7 linked regions of the Homo sapiens genome follow. The protein of the gene in region 5 purifies or fractionates together with the protein of the main gene of each other region. This does not show direct contact. Each region holds a gene or a part of one and is shown on either strand. Other genes may lie near its edges. The genes, in order: CTPS1, GAB2, KIAA1191, PTER, SNX3, SMC1A and ZC3H6.

The links.
Region 1: the proteins of SNX3 (region 5) and CTPS1 purify together in Homo sapiens (affinity purification with mass spectrometry; one large-scale study listed by BioGRID and IntAct). This does not show direct contact.
Region 2: the proteins of SNX3 (region 5) and GAB2 purify together in Homo sapiens (co-immunoprecipitation; one large-scale study listed by IntAct). This does not show direct contact.
Region 3: the proteins of SNX3 (region 5) and KIAA1191 purify together in Homo sapiens (co-immunoprecipitation; one large-scale study listed by IntAct). This does not show direct contact.
Region 4: the proteins of SNX3 (region 5) and PTER purify together in Homo sapiens (affinity purification with mass spectrometry; one large-scale study listed by BioGRID and IntAct). This does not show direct contact.
Region 6: the proteins of SNX3 (region 5) and SMC1A purify together in Homo sapiens (affinity purification with mass spectrometry; one large-scale study listed by BioGRID and IntAct). This does not show direct contact.
Region 7: the proteins of SNX3 (region 5) and ZC3H6 fractionate together in Homo sapiens (co-fractionation; one large-scale study listed by BioGRID). This does not show direct contact.

What each region holds. Positions count from the first base shown.
Region 1 is NC_000001.11:40,992,964-40,997,141, forward strand, and holds part of CTPS1 (CTP synthase 1), read left to right. Parts: intron 1-2,953; coding exon 2,954-3,105; intron 3,106-4,178. UniProt on the Homo sapiens protein: This enzyme is involved in the de novo synthesis of CTP, a precursor of DNA, RNA and phospholipids. Catalyzes the ATP-dependent amination of UTP to CTP with either L-glutamine or ammonia as a source of nitrogen.
Region 2 is NC_000011.10:78,410,996-78,415,173, reverse strand, and holds part of GAB2 (GRB2-associated-binding protein 2), read left to right. Parts: intron 1-4,178. UniProt on the Homo sapiens protein: Adapter protein which acts downstream of several membrane receptors including cytokine, antigen, hormone, cell matrix and growth factor receptors to regulate multiple signaling pathways.
Region 3 is NC_000005.10:176,351,087-176,355,264, forward strand, and holds part of KIAA1191 (putative monooxygenase p33MONOX), read right to left. Parts: exon of another isoform or gene 2,486-4,178; intron 2,343-2,485; exon of another isoform or gene 1,663-2,342; coding exon 1,536-1,662; intron 1-1,535. UniProt on the Homo sapiens protein: Potential NADPH-dependent oxidoreductase. May be involved in the regulation of neuronal survival, differentiation and axonal outgrowth.
Region 4 is NC_000010.11:16,481,823-16,486,000, reverse strand, and holds part of PTER (N-acetyltaurine hydrolase), read right to left. Parts: intron 2,864-4,178; exon of another isoform or gene 2,067-2,863; coding exon of another isoform or gene 2,052-2,066; intron 1,665-2,051; coding exon of another isoform or gene 1,617-1,664; coding exon 1,185-1,616; intron 1-1,184. UniProt on the Homo sapiens protein: N-acetyltaurine hydrolase that regulates feeding by catalyzing the hydrolysis of N-acetyltaurine into taurine and acetate. N-acetyltaurine has anorexigenic and anti-obesity effects that are dependent on GFRAL receptor and GDF15.
Region 5 is NC_000006.12:108,226,228-108,230,405, reverse strand, and holds part of SNX3 (sorting nexin-3), read left to right. Parts: intron 1-4,178. UniProt on the Homo sapiens protein: Phosphoinositide-binding protein required for multivesicular body formation. Specifically binds phosphatidylinositol 3-phosphate (PtdIns(P3)).
Region 6 is NC_000023.11:53,409,155-53,412,776, forward strand, and holds part of SMC1A (structural maintenance of chromosomes protein 1A), read right to left. Parts: intron 3,100-3,622; coding exon 2,841-3,099; intron 2,748-2,840; coding exon 2,607-2,747; intron 350-2,606; coding exon 267-349; intron 116-266; coding exon 1-115. UniProt on the Homo sapiens protein: Involved in chromosome cohesion during cell cycle and in DNA repair. Central component of cohesin complex. The cohesin complex is required for the cohesion of sister chromatids after DNA replication.
Region 7 is NC_000002.12:112,278,167-112,282,344, reverse strand, and holds part of ZC3H6 (zinc finger CCCH domain-containing protein 6), read right to left. Parts: intron 1-4,178.

The sequences.
Region 1 (4,178 bases), on a different chromosome or scaffold from region 5:
GATTACAGGTGTGAGGGCGCCCGGCCTTAAAAATATTCACTATTAAAAATGTAACAAGTATTTCCACATTTAAGTTTAAGTTTCAGATTTTTTGCTTTTTTTTTGAGATGGAGTTTTCACTTTTTCATCCAGGCTGGAGTGAAGTGGAGCAATCTCAGCTCAGTGGAACCTCCACCTGCTGGGTTCAAGTGATTCTCCTGCCTCAGCCTCCCGAATAGCTGGGATTATAGGCACCTGCCACGATGCCGAGCTAATTTTTGTATTTTTAGTAGAAATGGTGTTTTGCCATGCGGGCCAAGTTGGTCTGGAACTCCTGACCTCAGGTGAGCCACCCGTCTTGGCCTCCCAAAGTGCTAGGATTACAGGTGTGAGCTACCACGCCTGGCCTTGCCTTTTTTTTTTAAGAGACAAGGTCTTGCTGTGTCACCCTGACTAGAGTGCAGTGGTGCTGTCACAGCTCACTGCAGCCTGGGCTTAAACAGCCCTCCTGCCTCAGCCTCCTGAGTAGCTAGTACCTTAGGCGGACGCTACCATGTTCAGCTGTTTTATTTTTTGTAGAGATGAGGTCTTGCTATGGTTGCCCAGGCTGGTCTTGAACTCTTTGGGCTCAGGCAGTCTTCTTGCTTCAGTCTTCCAAAATGTTGAGATTACAGGCGTGAGCCGGCAATGCCCAGCCTTACTTACTCTTTTAATTGGAATGTTTATCTTACTGAGTTGACTTGATATAGTCTGAATACAAGTCTTTCATCAGGTATGTGATTTTCACATATTTTCTCCCTATCTGTGCCTTGTCTTTTCATTTTCTTCTCTCTTTTTTTTTTTTTTTTTTTTTTGAGATGGAGTCTTGATCTGTTGCTCAGACTGTAGTGCAGTGGCATGATCTTGGCTCACTGCCATCTCTGTCTCCCGTGTTCAAGCGATTCTCCTGCCTCAGCCTCCTGAGTAGCTGGGGCTACAGGCATGCACCACCACACCTGGCTAATTTTTGTATTTTTAGTAGAGACGGGGTTTTGCCAAGTTGGCCAGGCTGGTTGCGAACTCCTGACCTCAGGTGATCTGCCTGCCTCGGCCTCCCAAAGTGCTGGGATTACAGGTGTGAGCCACCGCACCTGGCCTTCATTTTCTTAATAGTGTCTTTTAGAGCACAGACACTTTTAAATTTCGATGAAGTCCAATCTGTTTTTTTCTTTTATGGATTGTGCTTTCACTGTCGTGTCTAAGAACTCCTTGCTCTTAACCAAGGTCATGAAGATTTTCTTGTAAAAGTTAGTTTTAGGTCTTACATGATCCATTCTAGGTTAACTTTTGTGTGTAGTGTGAGGTAAGGGTTGAAATTTTTACATGTGGATATCTACTTGCCTCAGCCCCATTTGTTGAAAAGACTATCCTTGGATACTATTCTGTACTTTTTAAAAATAAAGGTACATTATAGATTTACTAATCTTCATAAAGTTGTTTAGACTTATTTATAGCTATTCATAATTTTTATTACTACCGTGTATTTTTAAAAATTATATTTTCTGATTAGATAATACCCCATGTGTAGGAGACCCTGCTGACCTCTGTCCATTCATCTACAGCCTAGCAACCTTACTAAAATTCTATTAGTACTGATTGTTTACCTGTAAATTCTTTTGGTTTTTATGGATAAGCAGTGATATTGTATGCATTATTCAGTGGCAACCGCTTCTTGTTTTCTGGTTCATTTTTTTTTCTTATCTAATGATAATGGCTAATATCTTCAGTACATCATTGAATAGAAGTACTGAAAGTGGCCATTCTGGCCTTGTTCTGGACTTTAAATAGTAAACATTAATATTAAACCATGTGATGTTTACTGTGGGTTTTTTATATTGCCAAATTTTCCCTAATCTTAATTTACCAATAATTTTTATTATGAATTTGGTTTTGAATTTTTATCAAGTCTACATCTACTGAGGGAATTGTTTTCCTCCTTAATCTGTTTTCTATTTATGTGGTGAATTCCACTGTTAAATTTCCTAACACAGTAGTTCTCAAACTTGACTGCACACTGGAATCACTTGGGGAGCTTTAAAAATACTGATGCCTGCCTCCTACCCCACAAGATCCTAATTCAAGTGGTCTGGGGTGCAGCATGGGCTTTTGACCTTTTATAAGCTCTGAATGATTCCAATATGCAGCTGAGTTTGAGAACCACTGTTCCTAGTTAAGCCATTCATAGGTTCGTGGACATGATTTTTTTAAAGCTACATTTGTGATTTGGATCATGAATTATTATTATTATTATTTTTAAGACAGGTTCTGGCTCTGTTGCCCAGGCTGGAGTACAGTGATGCGATCTTGGCTCACTGCAACCTCCAACTCCCAGGCTCAAGTGATCCTCCCACCTCAGCCTCCCGAGTAGCTGGGACCATGGGCACATGCCACCACACCCAGCTAATTTTTTGGGTGTTTTTTTTTTTTTTTGAGACAGAGTCTCACTCTGTCACCCAGACTGGAGTGCAGTGGCACAATCTCAGCTCACTACAGCTTCAAGCTCCCAGGCTCAAGTGATTCTCCCACCTCAGCTACCCCCCAGTTAGCTGAGACTACATGCACATGCCCACCATGCCTGGCTAAATTTTGTATTTTTTTGTAGAGACAGTGTTTTACCATATTGCCCAGTCTGGTCTTGAACTCCTGAGCTCGAGCAATCCTCCTGCCATGGCCTCCCAAAGTACTAGGATTATAAGCATAAGCCACCTTGCCCAGCCATGAATTTTTTTTAAAGGACTTTTGCATCCATGTTCATAATAGATTGGCCACTAATTTTCTATTCTATTCTTGAGTCTGTTTTAGTAGTTTATCTAGAAAATTGTCCTTTTTTCTGTTTTCAAATACATAATATTTTTACAAGGTCACGTAGCTAGTAGGAGGCTGTAAGCCTGGTGAGTTTTTGCTTTTATTTAATAACTTGCTTTTTTCTAAACAGGTGATCTGTGTCCACGATGTCTCATCCATCTACCGAGTCCCCTTGTTGTTAGAGGAGCAAGGGGTTGTAGATTATTTTCTTCGAAGACTTGACCTTCCTATTGAGAGGCAGCCAAGAAAAATGCTGATGAAATGGAAAGAGATGGCTGACAGGTTTGCCTGCAATGAGGAGCTGGGAGTGCTAGCCTCCTTTACTCTTTTGTAGGGCTGGTGAAGCCGACTCTAGCCCTAGCACTTTTGTACTTTTGCACTTCTGCCATCCACTCATTAGAAGAGCCTTTGTAGTAAGAGATGTTCAGAAAGGATCTTAGCTGTCACGTAGCTGTGGCACAGATGAGGAGATCCTGATAGGGCCAGGCCAGGTGCCGGGCCTCCAGACAATGAGTTCGGGTTATGTCTTAACACGCTTGTCTCTTACCAACTAGATCAGTGCAGATGGGCGTCCTGGTGGCAGCGGGTGAGTGTGCATATCCAAAGCCCACACGAATGGCTGACAGTGGCTGGAGCACTCCTGGGTACCACTCCAGAGTTCTGAGCTGTGTTTGGGAATGTGTCTCACCCCACACCAGAAAGGGATCACATTAGGACGGGGATGTGTTGCTGCCTACTCCACTACATCCTTTTAAGGCTCGGTGATGCTGTCACATTCCTTCAGAAATCTTCACTTCGTGTCTTAGAGCAATGGGCAGGCCTTATCTTAGTTGCAAGATCAATATGATGGCCTAGAAGCATTTGGAGAGGGCATACTCATTCCGTTGCTCTGTGAGAATCATTTTTCATTTCAACATTTTCCTTTCAGTCTTTGTCTGCTTACATATAGCTATCAGAATGGCAGTTTTATCATCCTTTTTCATAAAACATTATAAGCATTTTGCTCTGTTATTATATTTTACAATGAAAACTTTTAATGAGTGTGGACTTTTCTATTTTGTGAATGTCCCATAATTTGTTTGACACTTGCCTTCACCCCATTAATTCTTGTGAATTGTCTATGTCTGTTATTTTTTTTGGTCTTTGGTATGAAAAAAATTTTTTGTAGGCAAATTTGTGTGAGACGTTGAAACTCTTTGTAAGTTTCAAAACAAAAACAAAAAAAAAATTTTTCTTTACAAAGCCTGCCATGTTGATCTGAAAATTACTTCCTCTTTACTGGTCTGTACACAGAACTCAGATAATAGCTATTCCCGTTATATTCTTCCCAGGTGTGTTTTTGTTGTTTTTTGTGG
Region 2 (4,178 bases), on a different chromosome or scaffold from region 5:
AAGTCTGGGCGCAGTGGCTTATGCCTGTAATCCCAGCACTTTGGGAGGCTGAGGCGGGTGGATCACTGGAGGTCAGAAGTTCGAGACCAGCCTGGCCAATGTGGTGAAACCCCGTCTCTACCATAAATATAAAAATTAGCTGGGCGTCATGGAGGGCATCTGTAGTCCCAGCTACTCAGGAGGCTGAGACATGAGAATCGCGTGAGCCCGGGAGGCTGAGGTTGCAGTGAGCCGAGATCGTACCACTGCACTCCAGCCTGGGTGACAAAACGAGACTCCATTTCAAAGAAAAACAAAAAAACTTACTTAATTCGGAAAGACGGGAAGGTGTAGAGGGGAAAAACATCTTAGAAGAAGCAAAGGCAAATGTTTGAGCAATTAGTTTTCAGGGATTTTTTTCATCAGCCTTTTCTAGTTAATTAAGTATAAGTATAAGAGACCTATCTGCTATTTACTGAGTGCCCTGGAGAAATTGCAAAAAGTGTCTCTGGAAAATGCTGACTATTGCCTCTGGGGCATCCTGATATGGCTGCAGTGGGAGGCCGGCAGAAGTAACAACCCTCCCATCGTGCCTCAGTGTATTTGTGTGTGTATGCGCGTGCATGCAAATGCATACACACGTACATGTATATAATTATTAAACAGAATTTTCTTGAGGAAAAACATTTTATTAATATGACCTACACTGCATTGTAGTTTTCTATCAATTTCACTGGATTAAAAGATTGAGGGAATAAGATTGGCAGACTACCCCCTAGTGGCTAACTTGAAGAAAGTTGTGCACAAATTGTAAAGAACTACTGCATTAAGGTAACAGTAATTGTTTATTTCCATTATATTTATTAAATATACTTATTAAATCTATGTCCCAGGCACTGGATCAGGTGCTTGGAATAAAAATCCAGTAAACAGAAAAAAAAATTAATCCAGTCTTTCAGTCTTAGCAATGGCTTTGCCTTCTCCTTCAAAGGAAAATTGAAATGATGAGGGAGTAGTTGTCTGTACGTACGATGAATGGCCACATTTTCAAATTTACTTGTATCTGCATAGTTCCTTTCTTTCTTCCTTTTTTTTTTTTTTTTTTTTGAGACAGAGTTTCACTTTTGTTGCCTAGGCTGGAGTGCAATGCACGATCTGGGCTCACTGCAACCTTTGCCTCCTGGGTTCAAGCGATTCTCCTGCCTCAGCCTCCCAAGTAGCTGGGATTACAGGCATGCATCACCACACCTGGCTAATTTTGTATTTTTAGTAGAGATGAGGCTTGACCACGTTGGTGAGGCTGGTCTTGAACTCCTGACCTCAGGTGATCCACCCGCCTCGGCCTCCCACAGTGCTGGGATTACAGACAGACATGAGCCACCGCGCCCAGCCTGCATGGTTCCTTTCTTGTTTCCTTTTCTTAGAGTAGATGAAGTGCCACTTCTATCTGAGCTAATCCTGCTACTTATACTTTGAATCATATCTTCTCCTCCCTACTCAAATAATTCTTATCCTGTAACACATCTTCAACTTCTTTCCCTCTCTGTACTACCTACTTTTTTTCAGGGATAAACTTGGTGGTGGTTTATGCAGTCTTCCTTTCTCCCACCTTCTTCTCAGTCGGCTCCAGTGGAAACCTACTTTGTTATTCACCAAAGCTATTCTGACAAAGGCACCAGCGATACCCAGGTCACTAAACTCAGAGGATGATTTTTTACTCCTCATTTTAATTAATCTCTTCACTGCTTGGTCATAGTTGACCACTCTTTTTTAAAACACCTTCCTCTTATCTTGGCTGACACTATAAATGCCTGTTATTTCTCCTTTTCTGGCTACTCTATATTTCCTTTGCTAGACTGACCCTTTTATCCAGTCCTTAAAGGTTGAAGCTCCTTTATAGTCATAGTGGCTGTGTGGTTTCTCCCCTTTGGCAACCTTGTCCATTCTACTGGCTTCAGTTATCATTTGCATGGTGGTCATCAAGTTAAATTTCCATCTCAGAGTTGTGTTCTGAACTTCAGACTTACATATCCAACTGTTAACTGGGCATCTCTATTTGAATGTTTCCCAGTCAACACAAACTCACCACTTCCAAAACTAAACTCTTCTTTGTTCATCTCTTCACTCCACATCTGCTCAGTAAACAGTGCCACTAAGCACCTACTTGCTCAGATGAGAAACTTGGGCATCATCTTTGACTCCCCGTCACCCACTATCCCACATCTAATCTGTCACCAAAACCCATTAGTGGTATCATCTAAATATCTTGTTATACGCTTCTTCATCCCCACTGCCATGACTTTTAGGATTATTTTAGTAGCCATCTGTTGAGCACTTACTTTGTACCAGGCACTATGCTTAGACCATTGATCTTTTAATGTAGTAATTTAGCCCTATAATAAGGGAAGCAACTTACCCAAAGTCATCTAGCTTTGTCCTAAAGCCTGGGCTTTTTAAAAAAATTAAACATTTCATTTTGAGGTAATTCTACATGCACATCTAGTTGTAAGAAATAGTAAACAAAGATTTATGTAGCCATTATCCAGTTTTCCTTAATGGTAACATCTTGCAAAATTATAGTACAGTATCACAACAGTATATTGACAATGATACAGTCAAGATACAGAGCATTTCCATCATGATAGGATTTTTTATGTTGCCCTTTTATAATCGTATTCACTACCATCCCACCCCTACCACATCCTTAATCTGTGACAACTACTAATCTGTTCTCTGATATTTCATGTGTGTTATTTAAATGGATTCATGCAGTACTTAAGATTTTGAACTTTTTTTTATTCAGCATAATTCTCTGGAGATTCATCCTCATTTCATGCATCAATAGTTATTGTTTTTTATTGCTAAGTAGTATTTCATGGTATGGATGTACCACACAGTCTGTTTATTTAACCATTCACCCGTTAGTTCTCATTTACATTTCCCTTATGGCTAATGATGTTGAACATCTTTTCATATGATTATTTGCCATCTGTATATCCTCTTTGGTCAAATGTCTTCAAGAATTTGAGTATTTTATATATAGGTTTTTTTTTTTTGAGATGGAGTTTTGCTCTTGTTACCCAGGCTGGAGTGCAATGGCATGATCTCGGCTCCCCAGGTTCAAGTGATTCTCTTTGTTGTTGTTGTTGTTGTTGTTGTTGTTTTTAGACAGATTCTCACTCTGTCACCCAGGCTGGAGTGCGGTGGCACAGTCTTGGCTCACTGCAACCTCTGCCTCCCAGGTTCAAGCGATTCTCCTGCCTCAGCCTCCTGAGTAGCTGGGACTACAGGTGTGCGCCACCATGCCCAGCTCATTTTTGTATTTTTAGTAGAGACAGGGTTTCACCATGTTGGCCAGGATGGTCTCAATCTCTTGACCTCGTGATCCGCCCACCTTGGCCTCCCAAAGTGCTGGGATTACAGGCGTGAGCCACTGCGCCGGCTTTCCTGGTTTTTTTTTTTCTACACATTTTACAGGTTTATGTTTTTCCTTTAAGTCCGTGATCCACTGTGAGTTAATTTTCATGTAAGATGTGAGACTTAGATTGAGGTTCTTTTGTTGTTGTCATTGTTGTTGACAAAGCCATCCTACTTCCATTGAATTGCTTTTCCGTCTTTGTCAAAAATCAGTTGGACGTATTTGTGTGGGTCTGTTTCTGTTGTCTCTGTTTTGGTCCATTTTTCCATGTGTCTGTCCCTCTGCAAATACCATAGAATCTTGCCAACTCTAGCTATATTGTAAGTCTTGAAATCTGGTAGCCTGATTCCTCTACTTTATTCTTATTTTTCAAAGTGTTTTAGCTATTCTATTATCTTTACCTTTCAATACAAATTTTAGAATAATCTTGTTTATGCAAAAAAAAGAAAGTCTTGCTGAGATTTTAATAGGAAGTGCATTAATCCTGTGTACCAATTTGGGAAGAAATTACAGCTTTACTATATTAAATCTTCCAGTCCATGAATTTATTTTACATTTATTTATATATGTCTTTCTTCCTTCGTTTATTTTCTTCTCCTTCCACCATCCCCCCCCCCAACCACCCCCACCAGAATCTTGCTGTGTCACACAGGCTGGCGACAGTGGCACAATCATGGCTCACTGCAGCCTCAAATTCCTGGGCTCAGGTGATCCTACTGTCTCAGCCTCCCAAGTAATTGGGACGACAGCTGCGTACTGCTGTGCCTGGCTAATTTTTTTT
Region 3 (4,178 bases), on a different chromosome or scaffold from region 5:
AATCCCAGCACTTTGGGAGGTCAAGGCGGGCGGATCAAGAGGTCAGGACATCCAGACCATCCTGGCTAACAAGGTGAAACCCCATCTCTACTAAAAATACAAAAATTAGCTGGGTGTGGTGGCAGGCGCCTGTAGTCCCAGCTACTCGGGAGTCTGAGGCAGGAGAATGGCGTGAACCCGGGAGGCGGAGCTTGCAGTGAGTCGAGATCGTGCCACTGCACTCCAGCCTGGGCGACAGAGCAAGACTCCATCTCAAAAAAAAAAAAAAAGTTACATTGTGCTAAAAGAACAATGAATAAGTTTTGTAACACTGCTAGAACACATTCTCAAGCTTGTAAAATAAAAGTAGTGTTGCTGATTCAACAGATGTGAATAAGAAAATCAAAGTATAGGTGGTGCGTGATGGCTCACACCTGTAATCCCAGCACTTTGGTTGGCCTAGGCGGGCAGATCACGAGGTCAGGAGTTTGAGACCATCCTGCCCAACAGAGTGAAACCCCATCTCTACTAAAAATACAGAAATTAGCCAGGCGTGGTGGTGGGCGCCTGTAGTCCCAGCTACTCCAGAGGCTGAGGTGGGAGAATTGCTTGAACCTGGGAGGCGAAGGTTGTGGTGAGCTGAGACCACAGCATTGCACTCCAGCCTGGGTGACAGAGTGAGACTCTGTCTCAAAACAAAAAAAAAAAAGAAGAGAAACCAAAGTAAGAGTCTGGACCTTTGGTTCTTGGTGAATTCACTAGGAATTGCCCAGGACAAACTGATGCCCTCCTGGAGAAGATAAACAAGGGCTTCTGACTTCAAAAATGAGCCAACCAAGGAGAACCTCTATGTACCTTACCCTGGTAGGGGCACAACTGCTGACAAACAGAGCCATGTATCTAATTGTTAACTTCCCACAGCAACCTGTACAGCCCTCCAGAATGAAGAAGTTTAGTTAGCTTGTTATAAGGTTAAAAAAAAATCCAAGTTCTCATATCAGGTTTCATTAGGATGACCAATCATACATTCTTAAGACTAAAGACACTTGGACCTGGTCCTCTTCCTGGTAGACCAACTTTGAGCTGTTTAAAAAAAAAAAAACAAAAAAAAAAACAAAAACTGGGGTAAGTGGGAAATGCCCGGATGTTTCCCCTTCTCCAGCAGAGCTTGAAACAGTAACAGCAGCAGCTGCCGCCACTGAGCACTGGGCCTTCTGATCCTCACCTCAACCTGCCAGTGAAATTCCCCATTTTAGAGCGGGGCAGTCTCTGTAGTTAAGTAGCTTGCCCAAGGCCACAGTGACAGAGCTGGGAACATGAGATCATATCAACAAAGCAGCAGGAATGCACCTAAATCAGATAAGATGCTTAACATTTGGCAAATCTTCCACTTAATAAATGGAGCTTCAATACTGACATGATTCAGCAGCCAAACTGACATTTTTTAGGATAAGGTAAGGCGAGCGTGTTGCAGTATCATCTCCAATCAGCTTGTAGGAAGCCTCAACTCTTCCCTGCCCCTATGGCACTCTACTCTGAGGGTGAAGAGTGCTTACTTGTGATCAGAGAATTCATGATGACATGGGTAGCTTTAGCCTTCACCACTGGGACCTTGTCCACACTGTCAATGGCTGATGACAGGGTCATGGCAGGGGAGGGTAGACTGGCCTCTCCTTCCTCCACCTGTTCAAGAGAGGTACAGTACAGAAGCACTTAGGCAGGGCAGGGGAGTCACACACCTAAACTTACTCCTTTGGGGAGGAAGTTACTGAAATAACATTAATCTGGTAAGTGAGGAAATCATTGAAGGGAGGAGTTGGTCATCTCCACCCAGCTAGATAGGTATTATCCATAGAGACAACAAAGAAAGACATTAGGTGAATAGTTTACATTTATAAAGGTGGGAAAGCCAGAATTTGAAGCTCTGACGTCTACTACCTTCCCAGACTATGATCTTCCGATATACTATAGTACTATGCCCTAAGAATGCAGAAGAAATGCTTATTACGAAGCACTGACCACATCCCAGGCACTATGCTAGATCTTAATTGATGAGAGCACTGGCTAAGTGGTTCTGACCCTGTGCCAGCCATTAGAACAGACTGCCGGGCTCCACCTCAGAGTTTGATTCAGTAGGTCCCTGTTAGTCTGGGGTGGAGTTCAAGAATTTCTTTCTAATAAATTCCCAGGTGTTACTGATGCTGCCGGTCCCAAGACCACACCTTGAGGACCACTGCTCCCAAGGTTCAAGTAATGGTCTTTTGAAACAAACAAAAAAAATCTACTTAGCTCCTCATTTTCAACCTGCAAGAGCTGGCAGCCTCCACCTTCTGCAATCGAAACACCTGATACCTTGCTCAGGCCTAGCAGGGAGGAGAGAACAAGACTTATTCTTTATTCTGTGCTTGTCTGGAAGAACTGAGAAGAAAGTAAGATGGTTGAAAAGGGGGGACAGATAAAAAGTAATGAAAAATGTTGTATCCTTACTACAAAACAGAATTTATACCTTTAAGCTGTGACCTTGAGTAAAACTTGAGCCTGTTTCCTTACTGGGAAGACGGTTGATTCCTAACATGGGGAGAGTTAGGGCAAATGAATAGGATCGCATGCAATGAGTCAAGCGGAGCTCTCCTTTGGAGCAGCTGTTCCAAGCCATCAGCTGTTCCAGCTGAGGCCCAGAAGAAATCTGGAAGCCCGCTCATCCCTTGCCTTGTGGAGCCATCAGCAGGGTGTGTGGCCTGGCAAGCACCACCAGAAGCCCTGCTCACCTCCTGCTCTGGACCCTAAAGCCCATTGCTCTGACATCACAGGCAAGCTGCAGCAGGCCTTTTCTCCCTGCACTTTTGCTACTTGTTACATGGAATACTCTCCCTGAACAACTGACTGGGTCATATTTCAGTAGATAATTGATAGAGGGAATATCCCCCAGAGCTGTAGGGGCACTTTCTTAGAAAGGAGCTGTCTGCCCTGAAAGTCTGTTGGAGGCGGGGGGAAAAACACTCCTTAGAAATTATCAAATATGGCTCTACTAAGAGAAAGTTAAGCAGGGAGCCTGCAGTCATAATATCAGCTACACAGCTAATACACAATGTGCCAACCCTTTACATCCCCTGACTGAATCCCCACAACACCTCTATGACATAAGGTATTCCCAACTCTCAGAGAGAGACACTGGGGCTCAGGGTAAAGTTGTGTGCCCAAGGTCTTGCTAGGGCAGACCACCTGGGACTCACACCCAGGCCTATTTCAGTGGACCCTTACTGTGTACTGCCTGTCAGGCCCTGAGCTACCATGTGGCTCAAAGTTCAGAGAAACTGTAGCTACAGGTTAAACAGCCTTACGTGAACTTGGCGGGCCTACTTTATTCAGGCAACAGTCTAGCCTTTCTTGTATTCTTGGTGGCTGGAGAGTCAGAGGGGAGAGAGTCCCTGAGGTCGGGAAGCAGAGGCTCCAATAATGCGAACCTACGAAACTAGACTGCACGAAGGACTGTGAGGTATGTTCGGAAGGGCCTTAGGAAGGAGGCAGTTCTTACAGAGGATGGCCATGGGCAAAGGCAGCTGAGGCTGGAGGTACAGCATGAGGACAGGTACAGCATGTGTTCAAGAAAGGGCCAATTTTTTTCCCCAATCACAAAATGAGCAGTTTTTGGGAATCTATGCCAGGCCATCGGCTGGATCCTGCAGATAAGAGTACAAACCTAGACATGGCCCCTGTCCTCAGGAAGCTAATGGAGGGCGAGAAAGCAATGCAGGGATGACGACGGGGACCATGGTACCGTGGGGAGCTCAGAGGGAGAGGTGATGGCCTTATCAGGAGGACGGAGATGTCAGGAAAACTGTCACAGAAGAGACTTTTGAGCTAAGACTTAAAGGATACCAGTTTTCAGGCAAATGGAGTGGGAGAAAAGGTGAGAGGACAGGATGTGGATGGCAAACATCCTAAACAATCAGGGCAGTGTGAGCCAAAAACTGACAGGCAGAAAATACGCTGCTAAGTGCAAGAATTTTAGGTAACTTGCACAGTTCAAGCACTGGGTAGGGGAGCTGGAGAGATGCAGGCAGGACTTAGATCACATGGACTGTGGATCATGCTGAGCTTGGATTTAGCTCTGTGGGGAATATGAAGAGTCTCAGGAGCAGACAAGGCCATTCTAGTTTTGAATTAAAAAGAAAAAAAAAAGGAGGGAGATTTAAAAA
Region 4 (4,178 bases), on a different chromosome or scaffold from region 5:
ACCGCCAATGAATTGAATCTATGTCCCGTGTATCAAGTCATTCTTTTTCTTTCTTCTTTGTTTTTTTTAAAGAAGCAGAGGTCTCACCATGTTACTCAGGCTGGACTTGGAACTCCTGAGATCAAGTGAACCTCCCATTTCAGGCTCCCATGTAGCTAGGACTACACGCTTGCATCACCGCACAAGGCATCAAGAAATGCTTTAATTCTCTCCTATTTATTCCAGTCTTTTATCATAGACAGCATAGAAAATTCACAGCACACTATACTACTATTAGACTTTTGGGTTCATATGTATAGTTACCACTAAAAGTGGTTGGAAGAATATATAATCCTCATCATCAGCATAGTCTTTAAACAACAAAAATACATTAAAAAAATAAAGTCCTGGTTGGAAAATAATGCAGAAAAAATTTTGAAATACAAAATACTCCAGAGAGTAAGTGATCTTTTGCAAAGAATGAGCTGACACCCTATGCCTGTCATGCAGGCAATGGAAGATACATACGAATATATACATATATGTGTAAACATGTATAAATAGATACATGTGTGTTTAGAAAGAGAACACATACACGTGCAAAAAAGGTTTTGCACCTTATTCTTTTTGTCCCTAAACAATTTACTTCCTTCTGCCCATTCTTAAGACCATATTATGACAAAACACAGGGGAATGAATTTTCTTCCACCTCTCCTGTTTTGTGAAAGGAAACTGAAACATATTCACAAATGTGCCAAGTCTTTGACTGCCAAGTTTCACCCTACAGTGAATCTTCATTGCTGGTTATTATAAAATCCAGGGTGAAAAAAAATCGAGGTAGCATAACTTAAGATGGAAAAGTGAGGTTTACAAATAGACTGTGGTGCCAATACTGAGGACAGATACGATACACACAAATCTAACTATTATCACGTTGGATTTTGCAATGACCAGTGCACTAAGATCTCTTTCCTTGACACTTATTATTATTATTTTCTTTTTTCTTTACCACAAGGCTTGCTTGCAAAATTGGCACTTTCTTTATGAAATACAGTGTTACTAACTGGGGCCCCAACTGGCAGATGTCTTTGCTAGCTAGCAAATTTCCGTAGCATGCCCAGCTACCTCTGAACCCAGGGCATTTCCAAGGTTCTGGCTGTTCTGAATTTATGAACAAATACTGTCAAAGAACTTAGGCTTTTTACCTGCTCCACTGACATGGCCCTGGTCTCTGAGGAGTGAGTTGCATCCACATAAAACCCGGCTCCAGATATGATATGGACGCCAGTCTCTTCTGCAAGCCTCTTCAACGTCTGTGTGTCTCGGCTAATCCCAGTGGTTGTGTTTTCCACCAAAGCCCCTCCACCATTAGCTTTAAAATACAACAGTTCTTCCTTTATGGCTTCTGTCTCCTGATTTAATTGAAGGTTTTCTTTATGGGAATAGGCGTTTTTCTGAATCCAATATAAATTTTTCATCACGATAGGTTCTTTGGAAATAGCTTCCTGGCACGGGGGAGGTGGACAGTAACAGCAGTCAAAGGTCATGGCCAGGTGTTCATGGGTCAGGGTACGGCCCAGTTTGCTTGGCTCTACAAGGCCCAAAACGGTTTGGACTTTTCCACTTAAGGAAGACATTTCTGATGGTACCACCAAGAGATGTTCTAAAAAGAGGATTTCTTTTTTCTAAAAACAAACAAACAAACAAACAACTACAATCAGAATATTTAACACACACATAAACTCTTGTCCGTAAGGGGTGGGAGGCTGTGAACATATACCCATGTAAGAAGGCAAATCAATAAAACTAGAGATACGATCTCACAATCCTGCCGACTTCAGAATCTATCCCCACTGCAGATCTAAGTGACGTGCGTGGTGTTAATTGCCTCCCACCCCTTCTACTGGGAGTCCTCTGCCTGAGTTAGTCCTAACCTTATCTACTGGAAATATTCTTTGATATTCAGTTCACTTTTCTTTAACTTAATTGTATCTCTTAATCATAGCTATGCATTCTTGGATAAATCAACAGTAATTGTAATTAAAAAAAAGTATTCAGAATCAATAACTTACATCCAAACTAACCATGTATCAGTACTGTTTCATTTGTCACTTTTTAGCTAAATTAAATATCCTGAAGCAACTGATCTTTCCTCCTTTTTTTTCTTTTTGAGGGAGAGTCTTGCTCTGTTGCCCAGGTTAGAGTGCAGTGGTACGATCTCAGCTCACTGCAACTTCCGCCTCCGCCTCCTGGGTTCAAGGGATTTTCCTGCCCCAGCCTCCTGAGTAGCTGGGACTACACGCATGTGTCACCAAGCCTGGCTAATTTTTGCATTTTTAGGAGATGGGGTTTCCCTATGTTGGCCAGGCTGGTCTTGAACTCCTGACCTCAGGTGATCTGCCTGCCTCGGCCTCCCAAAGTGCCTGGATTACAGGTGTGAACCATCACTCGTGGCCACAACTGATCTTTCTACTGTTCCTCCACTACCCAAGCAAACAAATTTCTGTTGAAGGTCCATGATGTGTCAGAAATTAGAGCCATAAAGAAACAAAAGACAAGATCTCTGACTCACACGACTTCATAGAATATGCCCCTCCCCAAAACAACTGAGGAGCACACTCGGTTGAATAATGAAATAACAACAAGAAACGAACCTCTTCAGGTTGAATGCTTGATTGTCTAGGGCACACAGAAACACACTTCAAAAATACTGAAAAGCAAAGATTCTTAGCCATAATGAAAGCGATTGTGATTTATTGAAACTGAAATCGGCTATCTCTAAAAAGAGCAAAGCCCTCTCTATCCTCGATTTGCTTTCATTTGTAGCACAAATTAAGTGTTCACCAATGTCTATCAGTGATACCAAGAACTCCAATTCCAGTACTTTCCTTTAAAAGTACATTTCCTTTTAAAAAATTTGTTTAAATTAAAAATTAAATGGCCAGGTGCAGTGGCTCATGCCTATAATCCCAGCACTTTTGGGAGGCTGAGGTGGGAAGATCACATAAGGCCAGGAGTTTGAGACCAGCCTGGCCAACATGGTGAAAACCCGTCTCTACTAAAAATACAAAAATTTGCCAAGTGTGGTGGAGCGTGCCTGTAATCCTAGCTACTTGGGAGGCTGAGGCAGAAGAATTGCTTGAACCCAGGAGGCGGAGGTTGCAGTGAGCCGAGATCGCGCCACTGCACTCCAGCCTGGGAAACAGAGCGAGATTATGTCTCAAAAAAAAAAATTTTAAGTACATTTCCTAAATGAAGGGTTTATAAAGGAACAAGAGCTACTGAAAATAGTGAGGACAAACTCCTGCATGGCCAAGAGCAAAATCAGGACTCGAGTCCCAGACTCTGGGAACTGAAGAAAAGGAGCATCACGTGTTTCCAAGCTCTCAAACTGTTCCTTCAAATAGTGTTCTGAAGTCATCATTTCCCCCATATCCCTTGAAAGCCTTCTTTGACTTCCATTTTTGTCATCTGTAAATTAAAATAACGAAGCACATTTCATAGACTGTCGTAAAAATAAATTAGATACCACAGGTAAAAATACCTGTAGATGCATTTGGCACGCAGACCATATTCAACAAATAGTAGCTTTGTTTTGCGAATTCTAGGAACTATTCACGTATATCCTAGATTATTTCTTTTCAGAGAAAGTGGCTGATGAGAGGGGAGATGATTTGGGGGAACAAAGGGGAAAATTTGTGAAGGGTATAGTACACACGTAAGACAAGGTGAAAACAACATCAGAGGTCAGAGGGTGACAGAATTGTAGGCCAATTTATAGCAAGCCACTGCAATTATCTGGAACTCAGGTGTTTGCGATATATTGGCTTATAAGGCATAAATGATGGATTTAGACTTTTGGACAGAACTTAGGACTTGTGGCTAACATGGCCATTGATTTTGTTTGATAGTGCCTTTCTGGAAGCCAAACTTCTATCAGCTAGGCAATTCAAATGGTGGCTAAGAGAAAAGCAGGCAGTGTCTCTTCAGAGAATCACCACACAGCTGCCAGGCACTATACAGGGCAATATTTTCCAATGATGATGGATAGGAATTTACTGTTCAGTGTCTTATTCCTTGCTACTGAGAGCAAGGAGTGTGTAGTTCATGCCTTCCGTTGATGAAATCACAGTACCATTAATAATAGATGCAAGCTTCCATATGGGTTAATTTGCCGTTTCTTTCCTTCTGGCTGACCA
Region 5 (4,178 bases):
TTATTTCATACAGATGGTTGTATTTAACACTTTTACCTGTTAAGAAATAAAATGAACAGTAGCTAGGAAGAAAATTGTGGCTTCCACTTTATACTCAGCCTGATACTAAGCAACTTCTCTTAAAATTAGGGGGAAAATATGAATATTAGAGTGAGAGAATACTAAATCTTGCTGTTTAAATTTCAAAAGTTTTAGTCATCTTAAAGTAAGTTAACAATATTTAAGCCTGATTTACATTTAATTTCAGAATTCAGCATTCTTTCTGGGTAAATCTAGAGCATTTAAAGTGGCATCCAAGATAAAACCTTTAAGGGATTTTTGCTGTAATTTGCCTCAGTAGTCTGACTCTTGTCCATACATTTCAAAGCAGATAAACCTAGGAATCAACTAGAGCCATCTGTTCTTAATTCTACACCTTAATGCTACATGCAGCTCATCTGTGGCTTCTACTTCTGTAGTAACTTCTCTGTTCTATTTTTTCTGTTCATAGCTATCATTTTTCTATTCAAACATATTTATTAACTCCTGATGCTCACAGGTAGTCACCTTAGCCCCATATTTAGAGTGCAATTTAAACTTTTCAGTTTTATTTCCCATCATTCCCTATGCTTTAGAATATTCAAGAATTATATACTAAATATACACTGTACTTGTTTCTTCTCTGCATTTAGCTCACACTATTTTCACCATTTTCAGCTGTCTTATAGTATGGCTAGCTCTGTGTTAAAAGAGTCCTGGCTGAGGCCATTGCACTCGCGCCATTTTACCCTAGCATGGGCGACAAGAGCGAAACTCTGTCTCAAAAACAAACAAAACGAAAAAGAGTCCTGACTGGCCGTACGCAGTGGCTCACACCTCATATTCCAGCACTTTGGGAGGCTGAGGTGGAAGGATCCCTTGAGCCCAGGAGTTCAAGACCAGCCTGAGCAACTTAGGGAGACCCTGTCTCTAAAGGAAGGAAGGGGAGGGAGGGAGGGGGAGAGGGAGGGGAAGCAGAGAGACTGAGGAAAGGAAAGAAAAGGAGGGGAAAGAATGAATGAATCCGGGCCAAATCAATTGTCAATTCTTCCGTGCTTTTCATATTATACAAATGGTATTATGCTATATAATATACTGTTCTGAAACTTTTTTTTTTTTTTTTTTTTTGAGGTGGAGTCTCGCTCTGTCGCCCAGGCTGGAGTGCAGTGGCATGATCTCACCTCACTGCAACCTCCGCCTCCCGGGTTCAAGCGATTATCCTGCCATAGCCTCCGGAGTAGCAGGAATTACAGGCTCGTGCCACCTCACCCGGCTAATGTTTGTATTTTTAGTAGAGATGGGGTTTCACTGTATTGGCCAGGCTGGTCTTGAACTCCTGACCTCAAGTGATCCACCCGCCTCAGCCTCCCAAAGTGCTGGGATTATAGGCATAAGCCACCGCACCCAGCCTGAAACTTTTTACATGTCATACATTCTAGACAGCTTTTCTGATTAACCTATGGCTGAGTTATATTTTGTAAAAAGCTGTGTAATATAAGCTTGTAATGTAAGATTTATTGTTTCTGGTCTTTTTTGGGGTTTTTTTTTGTGTCTATTACAATGCTAAAATATTTTTGTATGTGTGGAAATATTTGTAGGATTAATTCCCATTGAAATTGTTCATTCAAAAGTTATGTGTATTTAATAGAGTAATGGATAATGTATTCACCAAAATGCCCCCCTTTTTTTTGAGACCGTCTCCCTCTGTCACCCAGGCTGAAATACAGTGAGTGATGTGATCACAGCTCATGCAGCCTCAGCCTCGAAGGCTGAAGCCATCCTGACACCTTATCTTCCCACTACAGGCATGTGCCACCATACCCAGCTAATTTTTTTTTTTTTAAACAGAGTTTCGCTCTTGTTGCCCAGGCTGGAGTGCAGTGGCGCAATCTTGGTTCACTGCAGTCTCCGCTTCCCGGGTTCAAGCAGTTCTGCCTCAGCATCCCGAGTAGCTGGGATTACAGGTACCCGCCACCATGCCTGGCTAATTTTTGTGTTTTTAGTAGAGACAGGGTTTCACCATGTTGTCCAGGCTGGTCGCGAACTCCTGACCTCAGATGATCCACCCGCCTTGGCCTCCCAAAGTGCTGGGATTACAGGCATGAGCCACCACGCCCAGCCTGCCCAGCTAATTTTTTATTTTTTGTAGAGATGGGGGTCTCACCATGTTGCCCAGCCTGGTCTCAAACTCCTGTGATCCTCCCACCTCAGCCTTCCAAAGTACAGGGATTACAGGCTTGAGCCATCATGCCCAGCCAGTTTGTAGTATTTTTAACCATGGAAATTCAACTTTTTATATGCTTATTTTCTAACCTTGATTGGTGTATGTTTCATAAGGGCCAGGTCTGCATCTTATTCATCATTATAAATAATGATTCTCCCTTATCTAGCATGGTGCCCTTTTATAGATGATCAGTAAATAATAGTTTAGTCCTCCTGAAGCTGTAGGTAAAAAACCTCTCCGCCCTTCAATCATTTTATGAAAGTTAAATAAATTGAAAGTGACCAATCACAGGAGTTTCAGCAGTGATAGTTCAGTACCTTAAACAACAACAACAACAAAAAAAAAAAACCCACATTTTGCACTTAGTTATTTTAATCAGTTACATTGAATTACAAATCCTTGTAATGATGAGGAAGACGTTTAACAGGCTAAGTTAACCACTGCATATGTAATGGGCAAGTGATGTTTGAATTTCTTGATGTGACTTTAAACTCTAAAGCAGTCCTCATGCAAAAAGAGAAATCATAACCAGTTAAGAAAACTAAAGGAACTTTCTTAAGCTAATCATGGTCCTCTAAATTTAAGTATATAAACTATCAAACTATTAGCTAATCATAGAAGGGAAAGTACTTTTCCCCCTCACCCCTCCCCTTTCTGTTAGAGTGAATCAGATATAATCATGATTGTGTCAAAAGTTCAAAAGGGAAAATGGAAGGTAAAATGAGCTGAATTGGCACTCTTCTCTCAACATTGTACCTGTAAGCTTGATATGTTGTTTCAGAGATTAACTTTATAGACTTCCGTACCCAGAAGTATGAAAATTCTTAGGGGACTCTTTTCGCAAGCTTGATCTTAACGTATTTGAATAAAGAGAGCAGTTAATCCCCTTTGTAAAGTAATTTGAGAGGAGGGAATTCAGAATGTAAAATCTCACCTGCAGAAAACACTCAACTCTGTAAAGGCCTTTTTATCTTTAAGGCATTTACAAAGACTTAATATTTTAATGCGGAAGGGTGAACTTGGTTAAAAAGCCAATAGGTGAAATTAGAGAGAAATAATCCAGTGCTTTCTTTCTGGGAATTATTCTACTCTCCAGGGGACCTAATTTTATTCCCTGTGGGGAATGAGAATACCCTCTGTACAACAAGCCAGCATCTTTAAATATAAGCTTGACTTTTAGTATAATAAGAGTCTTGTTAGGTGCAATTTTTTCCTTAGTCATTTATACAATGAACAAATGTTGTGGTTACCTGGGAAAGAAAATTCAAGTGCTTTTAAATCTCTTGTGAGATTTGGTTTCATGCTTGAAACCTATACACTGTTATGCCCAATAGCATCTGTTGAAAATTCTGAGCTGTAAGGTATACAACATAGAGAAGTTAATACACTTAGGAAAAAATTGAGACCACTACAAAATGGATTTAAGGGCCTGAATTAAAAGCTTTTCTTGTGCTGAGTGACAGCTACTTACCAGTAGCATTAAGCTTAACAAATAAGTAGAACTTTCTTAGGAGTGAATATTACAAGATGATGTCCCTGTATACACAGTAGGAAGCCAGTCTTTCCTTCAGGTGGCACTTAACTTTTTTCTTCCAATTGTAAAACACTTTTTAGTTCTATGCAAATTCTGTGCTAATTAGTTCAAAGTCTGAATTAACGGACAGAATATAATCTAAGAGAATATATAGTGTTGAGTAGTATTTTTGGTAGGGTATGGCATTAGTTATTATGTTAAGTCATTTCTGTCTCCTACAAACTTTGTGATAATTTGCACATTTTAAAATCTTTTTGGCTGGGCACGGTGGCTCATGCCTGTAATCCCAGCACTTTGGGAGTCCAATACAGATGGATTGCGTGTACTCAGGAGTTCAAGACCAGCCTGAGCAACATGGTGAAACCCTGTCTCACCAAAAGTACAAAAATTAGCCAGATGTGA
Region 6 (3,622 bases), on a different chromosome or scaffold from region 5:
TAGCTGCTCCATCACCTGGTTCAGCTCCTTATTGATTTCATCAATACGCCGCTTGGCCATCTCCACCTCCTCTGTCAGCTCCCCCTCTAGCTTCTTCTGCTCTTCTAGGGACTGCCTACAAAGTGAGGGCACACAGGAGTTACTCCTGCTGGTGAGAAAATACTCCTGGCTCAGAGAGCTCTGGGGGTCCTGCATGAAGAGGGGCATGTAGGTAGGGTCACAAGAACAGGCCTGGAAGTAAGGGGGACAGATGCAGAGCTACATACTTGCTAGTGGTGATGTATTCCTCCAGTTTCTCAATCCGCTTCTGATTCTCTTCAATTTCCCGCAGCTTTTGCTTGATCTTGGCCTGGGAAACAAACATTCCATCATCAGGGGCTGCACGAGTTTACGCCAAGACCATGGGGGCTCTAGATCACACCCTTTATGTGCCCACTCATCCAAGAGCCGAACAGTCCAGGACAATCTGTCACTAATATAGGAGGCCTACTAAAAAGCAGACATAGATGGTGTTCGGTTTGATCTACTAACTAATGATGGGGGCCTCCCAGAGCTCCAGAACCTCTCATAGGTGTTCTACCCAGCCAAGGCATCTTCTTCACCAACCATGGAGGCTCAAATCAAGATAAAGCTTCACAGGCCTTTCTGTACCTGTTTCCTCATCTGCAAAATGTGGGTAATCTCCACTGCATAGAATACACATTAAGTGCTTAATATAGGGTTGTTATTAATATTAATGACTATCACATTATTTTTAAAAAATTTTTATTATTTTTTAAAATTTGAGACAGGGTCTCACTGTGTTGCTCAGGCTGATCTCAAACTCCTGGCCTCAAGTGATCCACCACGCCTGGCCAACATTCTTTTAAATATTTAAAAGTGCTTAGCAGAATGCCTGAACACTGTACACTCCTGGGACACTATGACAACTTTCTATCATTGCTGTTATTACAATATTGATATCAGGGAGGCAGTAAGTAAAGTATATTTGGTAAGAGTGTGGGCTTTAGAGCTACAATGCCCAGGGTCTGGTTCTGATACTTAATAGTTATGTGAGTGGCCGGGCACGGTGGCTCGCGCCTGTAATCCCAACACTTTGGGAGGCCAAGGCAGGCTGATCGCAGAGGCAGGCAGGAGTTTAAGACCAGCCTGGGCAACAAGCAGAAACCCTGACTCTATAAAAATTAAAAAATTAGGAGGCCGAGGCGGGCGGATCACTTGAGTTCGGAAGTTCAAGACCAGCCTGGTCAACATGGTGAAATCCCATCTCTACTAAAACTACAAAAAATTTAGCCAGGTGTGGTGGCACCCACCTGTCATCCCACCTACACGGGTGGCTGAGACACAAGAATCACTGGAACCGGGCTGGGTGCGTTGGCTCACACCTGTAATCCCAGCACTTTAGGAGGCCAAGGCGGGTGGATCACCTGAGGTCAGGAGTTCGAGACCAGCCTGACCAACAAGGTGAAACCCCGTCTCCACTAAAAATACAAAAATTAGCCGGGAATGGTGGCTGGTGCCTGTAATCTCAGCTACTTGGGGAGGCTGAGGCAGGAGAATTGCTTGAACTTGGGAGACAGAGGTTGTAGTGAGCCGAGATGGCACCATTGCACTCCAGCCTGGGCAACAAGAGAGAAACTGCGTCTCAAAAAACAATAAAAATAAAAATAAAAAAATAAAAAGAATCACTTGAACCCGACAGGCAGAGGTTGCAGTGAGCTGAGATCATGCCACTGCACTCCAGCCTGGGCAACAGAGTGAGGCTTTGTCTCAAAAAAAAAAAAAAAAAAAGTAGCCAGGCATGGTGGCAAGCACAAGTAATGCTGGATACTCAGGAGGCTCTGGTTGGAAGATTGCTTAAGCCTGGGAAGTCGAAGCTGCAGTGAGCCATGGTCGCACCACTGCACCTCAGCCTGCATGACAGAGAAAGACTCTGTCTCAAAAATAACAATAATCTTGTGACCTTAGGCAAATTACTCTGTGTTGTAATTTCCTCATTCATAAAATAGGGTAATAGTAGCCATTCCATAAAGATAATAATAAATGAAGAATTAAATGAGTGGATACATGTAAAGAACATTGCCTATCATACAGTAAGTGCTCAACAGATGTGAGCTACTGTCATTATCATTGTCATTATCATTAAGATTATCATGGCCAGGCGCAGTGGCTCAAGCCTGTAATCCCAGCACTTTGGGAGGCCGAAGTGGGTGGATCACAAGGTCAGGAGCTCGAGACCAGCCTGGCCAACGTAGTGAAACCCTGTCTCTACTAAAAATACAAAAATTAGTTGGACATGGTGGCGCACGCCTGTAGTCCCAGCTACTCAGGAGGCTGAGGCAGGAGAATTGCTTGAACCCGGGAGGCAAAGGTTGTGGTGAGCTGAGATCACATCACTGCACTCCAGCCTGGGCAAGAGCGAAACTCTGTCTCAAAAAAACAAAAAAACAAAAAAAAAGACTATCATTACAGGTTGGGTAACTCTAATCCAAAATGCTTAGGACCGGAAACGTTTCAGATTTTGGATTATTTTGGATTTGGGATGCTCAACCTATATATATCCTTTTCTGTGGACCATCATCCCTAATCTTATAACTATAGCCCACCTCTGTCTCTACTTTCTTCCGTTCTTCCAGATCCAGACGGTCCTGGTCAGCTTTCTGGTCTCGATTGAATTTCTCCAGCTCCTGGGCCAGGGTAGCTGCTCTCTTGCTGGCTTCTTCTTTCAACCGGTGGTATTTCTTCACCTGTGTTAGGGACAGGGAAGGAGAACAGGGATGACCAAGTCAGCAGATGTCAGCCCAGGGATCTCCTCCCTGCCAACCCCTTCCAGAGCTTACCTGATTCTCCTCCAACGTCAAATCTCTGCCCTGACTCTGACTCTCTTCTTCCATCCGTTCTTCAAACTCCTGCCGAGCCTTCTCCACTGACAGCATCTCCTTCTCCAGCTCATCCATGTCACCTTTACGCTTCTTGTAGTGCTTCTGAGCATTCTGCAGAGACTTCTTGGCTGCTTCCAGCTTCTTGATTTTGTGGGAGGTGTTCTCCTTGGCTTTGATGTACTGAGGCCGCTTCTGGTTCAATTCTGAGTCCTTCTCCCTTTTGCCAGAGGGGTGGGGGAAACCAGTGAGAACTATGGAAGAAGGGAGGGTTCCCAGGCTTTTCACCCAAAGGAGAGCTTGAGCCCCTGAGCCAACCTCAGGGAATTACTTAAAAGAACATGGGCGTAATGCCCCACAGATCCTGAAAAAAAGGGGCAGTCTGACTACTCCCTGAAAGGTATGACTTCAGCCTGGCATTCCAGCCACTCCATAAGGCAAAGCTACCAACTCTGCCTCAACCCTGGCCAGGAAGCTCATTAACAACTCCCAAGAACATCCTGTATTTACTTAGTTGGCCCCTCAAATTCCTATCCTTTAAACTTCTAGCTTCAGTTTCCTCTTCTAGGAAGGCCTTCTCAGCCACTCCATTGGCTCGGCCTCACATTGGTTCCTCTTTCTTGGCAAGGCCACCACCCCTTTTGAGTTCTCCCTCATCTGAGCACCTGTCTACCCAGGGCCTGAGTGCTTAAATATTCTATTTGTCTAAACTGCAAGTCAAGAAATGTGCCTGGTTCTTACAA
Region 7 (4,178 bases), on a different chromosome or scaffold from region 5:
AATCTAAAAAAACTAAAGCAGGGCCACTGTGTTTCACAACTCCGGGGGCATCAATGCACAAGAGAACAGAGTTCTCCGGCCGCTCTGAACTGATGGCATGACCTGGTGAATTCAAGGTCACCCACCTGTGAGGTTCTTTTTGGTAGCCAATCTGTCCAGGTGAAAACTTAAGAGTCATAAACCTAAAATGTCTACCCTAGTGAGGCAGATCTCCTAAATAAGTGAGGCACACCTTGAGTGGTGAGTTTGCCAAGAAACTATGAATGATAAGACTGTGGAGTGTAGAGCACAAGTCAAGCCTTAAATGCTTTCAAATACAGATATTTTAAGATATTCTGTCAGGCAAAAACAACAGTATAGGCAGATTTTAGGCCTGAAGCCCACCAGTTTGCAAACCCTGCAGCACCCTTTCATTCAAACCTTAAAATATTTTAACTTAGGATAATGTACATCCTGTGACCTATTTTTAACCTTTATTTTTCTTTACTGCTCTGTGACTATCCCTTCTTTTCTCCTCCCTTGGTTTCCAAAAACTTCTGTGCTCTTCTCCATACCTCTTGACACACATACCTTGAGTGGTATCATTCATTTCAACTAACATTTCAATCAGCTAAAAATTCCAGATATTTATATCCAACTCTATCAATGCTAAGAAATACCTCATGAATTGTGCCTACTTTCTCATTGCCAATGCCTTTGGTCAAGTCCTCATCTGATTTCTAGACGTTTACAATAGCTTTGGTTCATTCTATTCTCTCATTGTCCACATCCAGCCACCAGTAAATCCTATTGGTTCTAAAACCAATCAAACCATATCCACAATCCAACCATTTTCACCTAAACCATCATCATCTGTTACCTAAATTACCACAGCAGTTCCTTTTACTATTCATTTACCTCATTTACCATACTACTCACTTACCATATACCATAGAGGATCCTGTCCCTCCTCTGTTTAATCCCCCATTAGCTCCCAGGTCACTCAAGAGTGAAATCCCTTGTGTTTTCCTCAATCATACCAGGCTCATTCCTGGTCCAGGCTTTCTCTACCTCCCACTCCCTTTATATGGATGCTCTTTCCTCAAATGTCTTGGGTCTGAATTGTTGTCTTGTATCAGGGCTCTTTGCTCAAATGTTACTCTTTCATAAGTGCTTCCCTAAACACCCTCCCCACATCCACTTGACTCCCCATCTCCCTTTCTGCTTTATCACCATTGAACACATCTGTTTTTCATGTTTATTTTCTGTCTCTCCCAAGAAAATATGTTTCATTACACCAAGTTTTTTCTTTATTGCTGTATTCCTGATCCTAGAACAATACATATTAAGCTTCATGTTTAATGAAAATGACTGAAAAGCTTCCTAACTTGTCTTCCTTCTACTGATCTCCCCTTCTGTAGTCCATTTCCTCCTATCCCCCAGGTAGTATACCAAAAAATGCATCTGATCATTCTCCTGCTTAAAAGACTTTGATGGGATCCCCACATCCTTCAGGGTCTGGCCCCAAATTTAATCCGTTTCCCCATTCCCCAAAATAGTTGTACACTCTCCACATACTAACACTTTTATCATCCCTGAACCTACTTGTGCCATTTATCCATGCTTTTCGTGTATCTCTGTATTTACTTGGCCAAAGTTTTATTCATCCTCCAGGTCTAGTTATGCCATGATGTCTCCCAGAAGCCTTCATCTGTGTACCCCCACAGCACTCAGTTCAGGCCTCCATTATAGTACTTGTGCTATACTATGTATTTACCAATCTGTTTCTGCAACTAGATTATAAGATCCCAGAGAGCAAGTTCATGATGTTGTGTCCAGAGTTCTTTTGTCAGTGCTTAACACTATACTTAGCAGAGACGAAACACTGTTAAGTCTGAGGAATGAAAATGTAATGAATGAAATTTTATAATGAATGAAATATTTGTTTATGAGAGGTTGGGGGAAAAAAAGAGTCTTCCTGAGAGTCAGAGTGCTTTACAACATCAAACCTGAGACCTGATACGAGGTTTTACATTTGCTAAAGAAAAATTTCCTTTAGTAATTTCAACAATAGTTAAATTAGTGGATTCAGGAATCAGAAGTAAGTTAATGGCTAGTCAGGAAAGTTATTTACTCCACGGAACATACTAATTTACAAACCAGATATTGTGTGGAGCAAAAAGTGTACTCTAATCTGAGAAAAGGCATCTGCAATTTTTTTAATTAAAATTGATTTAAGTGGGAAGGAAAATTGAAAATGATCTAGTGCAACTACTTCATTTCACAAATGAAAAAAATAATGAAAAGGGGAAGAGCATTAACCCAAGTTAGAAGATCAGGATCAGTACCAAGGTTTTATTCAAAATGAAGGGCTCTCTCTCAAATGTAGCACATTACAATTCCAAACTACTCAAGGATTAAAGCCCAGAACTTATTCCATTACTTTGCTGTGCAAACTTAATGAAGAGTGAAGATAATATTGCAAGTAGGAAAATAATATTGCAAGACTGAAAATAATAATACCTGGGTTCTTATCTAGGTTGTATTTATGAGATCTCAGACAATTCACTGAACCTTGTAATGCTACCTTAATTAACTACCACATGGGATTAATGTGAGAATCAAATGAAAGCCCTGTTGCAAATGAAAAGTATAATCATCTTTTCCATCCTCATCCTTTCAGGTTCTCCAGTGCAGTCTCTTAGCAAGTTTTCAATCTATATGGGGGGCCATAAACCACTTGCAATTCTGACTAGTTGGAGTTTTGTTGTTCTTGTAGTACAGGACAGAAAGCTGCGAGGGAAGGGTGGGGAGGTTGTTTATGTATTATAAACCTCCTCCCAAAGGGGAGTATTATCCATATCACCTATCAGTTAAAGACTCTTTGAGACTCACAAGCTCTTAAAAGGTTCATGCTAAAAAATTATCTTTTTCCCCAGTACAAGCCCTACAAAACCTTTTACCATTAGTATATTTCAGAAAATTCTGTAACAATTACTTGGGTTATATTTATCTTTTCCTACTCTACTACAGATGTGTCCAAAGCAGGGACTCATAGTATTTCGTCTTCAGGAGTTGTGAATTGTTTTAATTGGGTCAACATCCAGTTGAAATATAAAACTGAGCGGCTGGAGTCGTGCCTGAGAGAACTGAATGAAAAAGAACTGAACGACGAGAGACCAGAATTATACCTCCCTCTGATTTCCCTAAATCCCTAAAGACCTTTAGAAACTAGGCTCTGGGCTTATGCAAAAGTCCTCTACTACATTCTACATAGCCACAAGTAGAATTAGAAGTATTTTTATATTAATAACATCTTATAAAATACAATGTTTTAACTCCAGGTGTGAAAATATTTAAAGGAAAGTACACTAAATGGATTTTTTTTAAATTATTCATTTGGCAAACAATCTTGTGCAAAATGTTCACTATATAACATGTACAAGGCCAGGCGTGGTGGCTCACGCCTGTAATCCCAACACTCTGGGAGGCTGAAATGGGAGGATGGCTGGAGCCCAGGAGTTCAAGACCAGCCTAGGCATATAGCGAGACTCTATTTCTTTAAACGAGAAAAAAATTATGCATTCTGTGAATTCCATTTACATTTAGAATCTCATTCTCATAAACAGTAATATTTTAATTTGTATAAAATCAAAGCAATTGTAAATATAAATCATAGGCTTCATTTTTTTTCCTGCATACACAATATGCCTTAATTTTTGAAAATGTTATAAAAAGAATATCCTTGGCTGGGCACAGTGGCTCACCCCTGTAATCCCAAAACTTTGGGAGGCCAAGGCTGGTGGATCACTTGAGGTCAGGAGTTCAAGACCAGCCTGTCCAACATGATGAAACGTGGTCTCTACTAAAAATACAAAAAATTAGCCAGGTGTGGTGGCGGGTGCCTGTAATCCCAGCTACTCAGGAGGCTGAGGCAGGAGAATGGTGTGAAGGCGGGAAGTGGAGCTTGCAGTGAGCTGAGACAGTGCCACTGCACTCCAGCCTGGGCGACAGAGCGAGACTCCGTCTCAAAAAAATAAAATAAATAAAATAAAATCCTTGAGACAAAGCCTAGCTCCATATACCAAGTTTCATATATTTTTCTCCACTTAATTCACAGAAACTTTTATAACAGCATAAAATAGCTATTATATGGAAAGATACAGTATTTTGGAAGCCCGCAGATTAGTCCATTTTTT